Linked DNA regions of Homo sapiens: region 2 is linked to region 1. The links come from fine-mapping of genetic effects on gene expression. A gene starts in region 1. The other region holds a variant in brackets. All regions are shown on one strand. Distances are from middle to middle.

What was found. PIP is the estimated chance that this variant, and not a neighbour inherited with it, causes the effect. A credible set is the group of variants that fine-mapping cannot tell apart.
Region 2: its variant is the best candidate, but not a certain one, in a credible set for the expression of WIPF3 in pancreas (GTEx, PIP 0.53).

What each region holds. Positions count from the first base shown.
Region 1 is chr7:29,804,764-29,809,152 of GRCh38, reverse strand. It overlaps WIPF3 (WAS/WASL interacting protein family member 3), which reads right to left and starts at 2,645. Exons shown (of 9, transcript NM_001080529.3): 1 at 2,475-2,645. RefSeq lists an enhancer at 2,000-2,909.
Region 2 is chr7:29,879,196-29,883,584 of GRCh38, reverse strand. The region is part of intron 4 of WIPF3 (WAS/WASL interacting protein family member 3); the gene reads right to left. Among named protein-coding and RNA genes, the nearest start is that of WIPF3, 75 kb to the right of the region's middle. RefSeq lists an enhancer at 1-353. The variant C/T (reference allele first, on the strand shown) is at 2,234.

The sequences.
Region 1 (4,389 bases):
CTCAGGATTTCTCCGTAGATTTAAGGCTACTGTACCCTAATGTTTCAAATATTTCTGCACCAAAGTTCATATATATTAAATATTTATAACACATTTGCTAGAAAACACATTTCCTTCCTTTTGCTGAGTTATTTGTGTAGGTTTCTTTTTTAAAAACTTCAACATTAATAAACATATTTATAAATTCTAGAATGTAAAAAAGTTGACTGCCATCCTGGTGAAAATTCTATGTTTCCCTCTACTGTTAATCACATTTTGTTTTCTCGGATCTTTCCTAGGTTATATTCTTTATTCTTTGTGTATGTGTTGGAGTGACTGCAAACTCGCAACCTGTACTATATGGTTTCTGAACAATAAGTCTCCTAAAAAGAGCGTTGCCAGGCTAGACCAGCTGGCTTTCCCCTGTTCTTATAACTGTATGTTCTTAGACACACACACACACACACACACACACACACACACTTCCTCCATTCCTTCTGCTGCTGGGTAACTGCAATCTGTGACACAATGTCACACTCACAATTACGTGAAAACAGAGACTCCTAAAGGAACAAAAAGGGGGCAATGGCAGGAAGCCAGCCTACAAGTGTCTGTCACCCTGACCGCTCTGCCCCGATTCAGGTGGCCACAAATTGCCTGTTGAAGGTTGCCTGTCTAGAATTTGAAGTCTGTGTGCCCAGGCTGTTACCCTGAGTAAGTAATTTAACCTCTGTGACCTTTTATTTTCTCATCTGTAAAAAAGGCACAATAACAATATCTCTGTTAAAGAATTGCTGCGAATCACAGGAGGTGATGCACATAAAGGCATCTGCAGTGTATGTTTCATTTCCAGTTACTTCTTAACTTTCTTTTGCCCCTCCTCGCCACTTCTTTTCTGATTTGGTTTTTGTGGTTTTTAAATGTATCTTTGAAATGCATTAGCTGGAAAACTGCAGCAATCTGTGTGTTACCACAATGAGTGGACTTTAGCATCACATTTTTATTTACTTTTTCACTGAGGTAGAATTTACGTTAAGTGCACAAGTCTCAAGGGTATAACTTCAGTAATTCTTAGGTCAAGGTGAGAAGCATTTCTAGCATCCCAGAAGCCTCCCTCATGTCCTGTCCAGGTATTGACCTGGAGTTTATCTCCTTGCAAGGCCCAAAAACAACCTCTCCTCTGACCTCTTTCGTAATGATAAAGTTAAAAAAAATTGAAGGGAGGCAGGAGTCCCAGTGATAACTATTAATGCTGGGCACAAGAAGTGCACTCCCAGTCCTCCCTGTGAAGTGAGAAAAGATTCTGGAAAGGAGGAGGCGGAGGGGCACAAACCTTCTAAATCACACTGGTCATGCCAAACAAGGCCCTCATTTACAGCCAAGGACCCCAGGCACAGAGGCGAAGAGACAGCCTAACTTCCTGCTACAGAGTAACTTTCCTCCCCAATACAGCCAGTTACAAAGCGCCCTGAGTGTCAGGGATTGGCCACACTGTCCCAGGGCGCATGGAACCGCTCTCCTGGCCTTTCCCTGCAGAAACTTCTTTCCAGAGGGAGGCGCACACACGGTCCCCACGCCGCCCCGGCGCCCGCCACGGGCACACCCACGCGGCTGGCACGCCACCCTCCAAAGGCGCTGTTCCTGAGAGCCGGTGCCTGCCTGCCCACGGGGCCCGGGCGGCGCTCCTCCAGGTCCAGGGCGGCCGGGTGCCCGCCCTCCCCGCCACCTTCAGAGAGTGCGTGTCAGGGGCTGGGGGAAATCTGCTCTGCCACCTACCTACCCACCACCTAATCCTCCAAAGGACCCTAAACCCATTTGTGGCCAAATGTACATTGCTGGAGCACAGTCTGACTACTGACCCCAGGGGCTTGGAGATGAGCACGGGAGGGGTGTCCAGAGACCTGCGCTCTGTCCCCATGAGCTGTGTGACCTTGGACAAGTCACTTCACATCTCTGGAGTTGGCTTCCTCACTAGGGGGCTCCTTCTGTATTCCCCAAGCCACCTCCGGCTCTGCAATTTCCTAGCTCTCTTTTACTCCGCCCCAGCCCTTCCCGCGACAGCCCCCTCCCCAGCGAGACCCCAGCCTTTTGTTCCGGGGGCGAAGCGGAGAAGAGAGAGCGTCGCGAAGGACCAGGCCGAGGCGGCCTCGGTGCCAGGGGCTGCTCACCGGGGAGTCCAGTCCGGAGAAGTCACCAAGCAACCCCGTGGTGACCTCGCTCCCCACCCCGCGGTTTGTTTCCGCCCGGCCCGGCCCGGCCCGGCCGGGGCGGCGTGGCAGGGTGCGGGTGGGGGGCGTGAGCGCCGCGCGGCACGTCGACAACCTCCTGGGCCCGGGGCTGCAGCCCGGCGGGGGTTCCCCGGCCCTCCCACGCCCTCAGGATCTCTGTCCCGGGCCGGGCCACTCTGCTCCGGGACCGACCAGGGCGGCGGCCGCCACACCGCCCGTTCCTTCCACCCTCGGGCACCGACCCGCACCCGCGCGGGAAGCCGCTACCTGCAGGTGGCGGAGCCGGGGGCTGGACTGGACTCGAGCTCCGGCCGACGTCTCCGCCGCCGCCGCCTCCGGCTCCGGGCTCCGTCCCGCAGCGCCCGTGCTCCAAGCGGCGCCGCTACCGCCGAGCTGCGCTCGGTGCGCCCGGCTCGCTCCCCGGCCACCGGCTCTGGTGCTGCCGGGACGCGGAGGCGGGGCCGCCGCCCCCACCTGCTCGCAGGCTCCTGCCTGGGAGCCGCCGCCGCCCCGCGGCAGGGACACGGCCCCGGCGGGCGGGGTCGCTCTGGGACCCTGGAGGCGGGTCCCAAGTCGGCGGGCGCGCCTCCCGGGTACAGAGTCCCAAGTCTCAGCTGCGGAGAGACTGAGGCCTAAGGCTGGAATTCCCCAAATAGGAGCTGTTGCGCGGGCGGCACACGGCCCAGCACAGCTACTCTGGGGACACGCCACTCCTTGAATTTATTCCAAAATGTTGAGCCCTTACTAAGCTCCAGGCGGTGTCATAAGCGATGGGGACGAGAGAACAAGATTACCTCTTGCCCTCGTGGAGTTCACAGTCTAGAAAAGGAAAGCGACCAATGGGCGATTACAGCACAACCAAGAGGAGGCAGAGGCCTCCTGAGCCGGCTCCCAGAGGGAGCACCTGATCTAAACTTGGGGTGGGGAGTAGGTCAGGGAGGGCTTCTTGAGGAGCTGACGTCGACGAGAAAAACTGAAGACTGAGTGTGAATTAGCCAGGTGATGAGAGAATTATCCGGGTAGCCTGGGGAGGTAGATTGATGTCCCAGGTAGAGTCGAAGGGAGGAGAAAGCAGACTGAAAACTGAAATAGGGCCGGGCGCGGTGGCTCAAGCCTGGAATCCAAGGACTTTGGGAGGCCGAGGTGGACGGATCACTTGAGGTCAGGAGTTACTAGCCTGGCCAACATGGTGAAGCCCTGTCTCTACCAAAAAATACAAAAGTTAGCCGGGTGTGGTGGCGCTCTCTAGTCCTAGCTACTCGGGAGGCTGAGGTGGAAGGATCTCTTGAACCCAGGAGGCAAAAGTTGCAATGAACCACTGCACTCCAGCCTGGGCGATAGAGTGAGACCCTGTCTCAAAAAACCAAACCAAACCAAACAAAGAAACAAACAAAAACAAACCTGAAATAAGCTTGAAGAACGGAAAACCTTGCTTCTGTCACATTTCTTGTTCAGGCCCTTGGAGGATGCAGAAAGTTTGTGTCCGAGGCTGAATGCATTGCTGTAGGTGCTGAGATCATTGGGTGAGGATTCTGTATTGCCCATGTCCTGGGCATTCCTGCTAGTGGAGGAGCTAAGCGGGTACTCGTGGACTGTTCACTCAGCCTCGGTGTTTGAGTATCTGCCATGAGCCAGACACTCTGCAGGGCCTCAGGGCAAGGTGTCTAACTCTAAAGTTGCTGCTGGTCTGGAATAGAGGAGAAACCTGGCGCTCAGCGCTGTGCTGAGGCTTGTGTGAAATGTTGGGGACCCAGGTGAGGGAGCAGCCAATGCCAGCAGGGAAGATCTCACACGTGGATTGCAGCCTGTATTCAGGTTCAAGTTCTGTAGTGGCTGCTGTCAAAGTATGTTCCCCAAGCAGCCCTTAGCTGATCTCTTAATTACTCATGTTTGTAGCTGGGCAATGTGTCGAAAGCAAGGATTAATAATACACTTTTGATGTCTTTCACTCCAGTGTCGTCAAGAACATGGTTTTCTCTTTTGATTTAGGTGACGAAAGGTCTATGTGTAGTGAGTGGAAGCTGATGAGGCACTTGCTTTCCACCTGTTTGTCCTGAGTTCCTCTTGCCCTTTCCTCCTTTAGAATCATAATAGATGACCACAGGTATGGAACCTGAAGAACAGTTCTCCAACATAAAATTCATAAGCCCTCTTACATGGGTGATTGTTACTAAAACAAAAA
Region 2 (4,389 bases), 74 kb before region 1:
TGCCTTGGGCCTCTAGTATCCCAGCCAGGGCCAGGACTGCCCGGGTGTCTTTTGCCCTTCCTAATCAAGGCCACACTCACGAACTCATTCACTGACACCCGCTAGGTCCATCAGCCCTTATGCTCTAATTTGGACCCTCAGGTGTACCAACCAGCACTCCTGGCTAGGGAGGTTTTCTTCACTCCCAGCATTTTGTGAAATTTGACTTTCTTTGTTTCTGTGTTGAGAGCAGAAAATTCATGATTCCCTGAATACATAAGGTAAGACTGGAGGGAGACATTTGCCCTTGACAACCCAGGTCCAATGACCTTGAACCTCACAGTTCTATGACCTCTGGAAGTTCAAAACCTCCTTTCCCAAAGACTTATGCTAATTCCCAAGGGTTTTGGCTTTCTCATCCTATAGATCCTTCATTGCATCTGCCCCAGCTTGAAATTCAATTCCTCTTTTAAATTCAACAACAACCATTGGCTCTTGATAAGCATTTGCGTTTGGTTTTCATGGAAGACTCAGGTGGAGCACGTCCCCAGGAGGGGCCTCTATACTCCGCACAGCCTTGCACCTTTTTGCCAGTTCTCACCCTTTTTTCGCTCTGCCTCTCTCTAATAAGAAAAAGTTCCTCTCGTTGTTTACTGCCTCGAAGTTCTGCAATTACTGCTTAGAGATGTCCTTGGAGTATCACTGTCTACTCAGGAGGCAGATTAAAATATTTCTTCCAGATTTAGTGCTCTTTTTATAAGAATTCTGGGGGGTGTTTTCCCCTATATTTTATAATCACCATGACAACATGTGGACAACACTTGAAAAATGATGTTTTCTCACACCCACTACTTCCTGGGTGCTGCAGCATGGGACCTGCAGCTTTCATTTCAGATTAGAAATCCCAGCATCTGTTGGGGGTTCTGAGATTTGCAGTACTTGAGTCTCCTGTGTGTTTACCCCAATCAGGGGCTAAGCCATACACTTAAAGTACTGGATGTCAAAAGCCAGGCCAATCAAAGCACGGCCTAGCAGAGGTGACTCAGGTGAAGCTAAGTAGGCAAGACCTTGGTATCTGGCTTTCCAAATATGAGCCCCTCTGGCTATAATGTGACAGTCACCTAGACCATAATATTCCAACCACATTATGGAATGGCTGTTCTTAAGGTAGGGTGAGGATGGTATTAGCAGGTGTCAGCTCAGGGATTCCTGCCTAGAAGTTCTCAAACCTTTTTCCATATAATACAAAAAGATGACGAGGAGAACCTAGGCAGCTGCCTAAACAAGGCAGAGCCTACCTACATGCCCAGTGGCTGAATGAAATTGAAAGGGATAATGAAAGTTTACAAAACAGAGCAAAGCCTACCCTTAAATAGCCTATCCAAACCTTTTAAGTAACTGAGGACACCATGTCTCAGAGATTCAAAAACCCTTAAAGTGAGTCAGTTAAAAGTAGGGGATCCTGTGTTGATGAAGCCACCAACCAAATGAGAAATGTGGGCAAACTCATTTTTATCCTAACATGCGCAGCAGAAGCGAGGGCGGGCATGCCCCTCAGGGAGGAAGGTGAGACTGCAGAGGAGAAAGGGGCTGATGGTGTAAGTGCAGGCAAGTGGAGGAGGCAGGCCTGGGCCGACAGAGAGCTCCGAGGGAGTTGAAGGAAGTAAGGGAGGAGGCTGTCCTTCACAATGGAAACCCGAGCCCTAGAAATCCAGAGAAAACACAAAGGAGGCCAGGAGGTGGCGGGAAAGGCCAGATTGAGGGCATCAGGGATGCTGTGCCCATAGGAAAGGATTCAGCTTTTAGAACATGCAGGTTTAGCAAAAGATGAAATATTTCTTCTTCCTCAAATCTGAATGTTCTCCAGAAGACCTTGGAAGTCTCATTACATATTCTATTCAACCCAGAAATAATGTTTACTCATCATATCTTATTGTAATTCTCACTCCCTTAGAGCTCTAGGCCAAGGTTGCATTATGACTCCAGGGTCCCTAGGCACTTTTGCCTTTGTGGGCCTCTTCTCTATTAAAAAAATATTTATATTCATGACTGCATTGGTACAAAGACAAATACATTCTTTGATCCTAAAAGGTCATATGTTTTCTTCTGATTTTAAAAGAAATTTAAATATTTTCATGGGTCCCTAAAAGTACCATGAGCCCATGACACTGTGCTATGGTCCCTAATGAATGTCAGCCACCACACTACCATTCACACATGCAATTCAGCAAGTATTTACTGAGCACCTGCCATG[C/T]GCCAGGCATTTCTATGGCAATGAACAAAACATAGTCCCTGCCTTCACGGAGCTTAGCTTCAGATGGATCAGACAGACAATAAACAGATAAACCAGTGAATACATGATATGTCAGGTGGTGCCGAGTAATACAAGAAAAGTAAATTGAGGAAAAGGAGATATGGAATGAAAGGATAGGACTAAACCTTTATATGGGATAATAAGTGAAGACCTCACGGACACTTTGATCAGCTGCCACCTGAGCAGAGACCTGCAGGAAGGGAGAGACTGAGCCACGTGGACACCTGCGGATGAGCCTTTCAGGCCAAGGGAGAGTCGGTGCAAGCGCCCAGTGGCAGCAACATGCTGGTGTGTGAGAGCAGCAAGGAGGATAGTGTGAGTGGAGGGGATGGCATGAACCACCAAGAAAGGTAGGCCAGAAGATCAGAGAGGGAGCAAAGGCTCAAGTCCCTTCCTCTGATGAGAAGGGGGCTGTTGGGAAAGTGCTGGGAGCAGGGAGCCACGGCCTGCCTTGCCCTGACATGGTACCCAGTCCATGTGTTTATCTGGTGGCTTTCTCCTTGAGTTTCCATCCTGGAACAGGCATCATTAGTCACTTCCTTATGGACCTCCATCTCTAAAGAGATAAATTCTTGTCTTCCCCATTACAGCGGCTCAAACATCTGACACTTATGTCCCACTGGTGACAAGCAGACCAGTAGGACTCCTGCTGGCTATTTTTGGCTGCTTCCTATGAAAACCTGACTGGGGCCCATTTCTCCCATCTTCTATGAAGAGAAACTGGTGGAAGCCTTCTATTCCAAAGGATATTTGTTTGATAGCACTCGGGAATTTTGAAAAAGAAGAGGACACTGAAGAATATCCACTGTCTTTATTGAGGAAGACCTTGTACTCTACCTTTCCTGCTAACCCCTCAGCAAAAATGAGGAAATGAACATGGCCCCTGAGAAGGTTCAAGTTGGATCTCAAAATATCCTAGAGTCTTTTTCTTTGCTGGACTTTTATTGGTGAGTGAGGCAGCATAATCATCCCATAACATTAAACAGTCACAGAAGCCACTGAAAAAGTTAGAAAAGTCGCATGATGGAAGATCTGGTACGAGGAAGGTTTGGGCCTTTGTATTTCCTCCTGTATTAATGGTATTCCTGGAGTTTATTCAGCTTGCTGGTTAAAGAGAACAAGAATAGGAAAAACAGGTTTTTTTTCTCAGAGTAAATTTGTATTTGTTCAATTTTAATGCAATATTTTCAAAACATCTGATGCCCACTGAAACAAAAATCACTGAGGTAGACTGATTACAGACATGGCCTTCATTACCCACTTATGCTTGATTCCATAATCTTTGAAATATGATTTTACAGTTCCTCTCATCAAGAGGCGAAGTCTATTTCCCCATCCTTGTGACTTGTTTTGGCTAAGAGAATGTGGTAGGAAGTGATACTTCTTAGACTTCCAAGTTACATCCTAGTAATACTTCCAAGACTAAGCCTCAAGAGACTTTATTTATACTTCTGTCTTCTCTCTTGGAACCCTGCTGCTGGCATGAAAACAAGGCCCAGACAGCCTGCTGGATACTGAGAGACCACGTGATAGAGGTGAGTCAGGCCAGTGGTTATAGCTGAGGCTCCAGAGGTTGGAAAAATATGAGAAATATAAGATTAGCAAAGCTACCTACACAACCTGCAGTTCTTTATAGATGCAAGAGGGAGCCCAGCCAAGACTACTCTAAGCTGCTAACCCACAGAATTGTAGGCTAAAAAATGATTGTTTAAAGCTTTTAAGTTTTAGGGTGTTTCGTTACACAGCAGTACCTAACTGATATGATGACCGAATCATTACAACTCATGCATTGCTAATGCATCCACAGTGATGTCACTATGAAGTTCTATTACAATTTGGACCTTCTGTTTATATACACTTTGCAGTCTGGGCTACCATCACGCCATCACTAAGTATTACACACTATTACAAGTCATTTTTAAGCTATTACAATGGAATAATTTAAACAGGATGATGAATTAAAAGATTTCTCAAGAACCATTTTGTACTTTGGAAGTTTCTAGTGCTTAAGGTCCCAAGAACATGATCTTCTACTCTATCATGCCCGTTCAGTAAAACCATGTTGCTTACTGGCATGTGTGGATTGCCCAGATGGT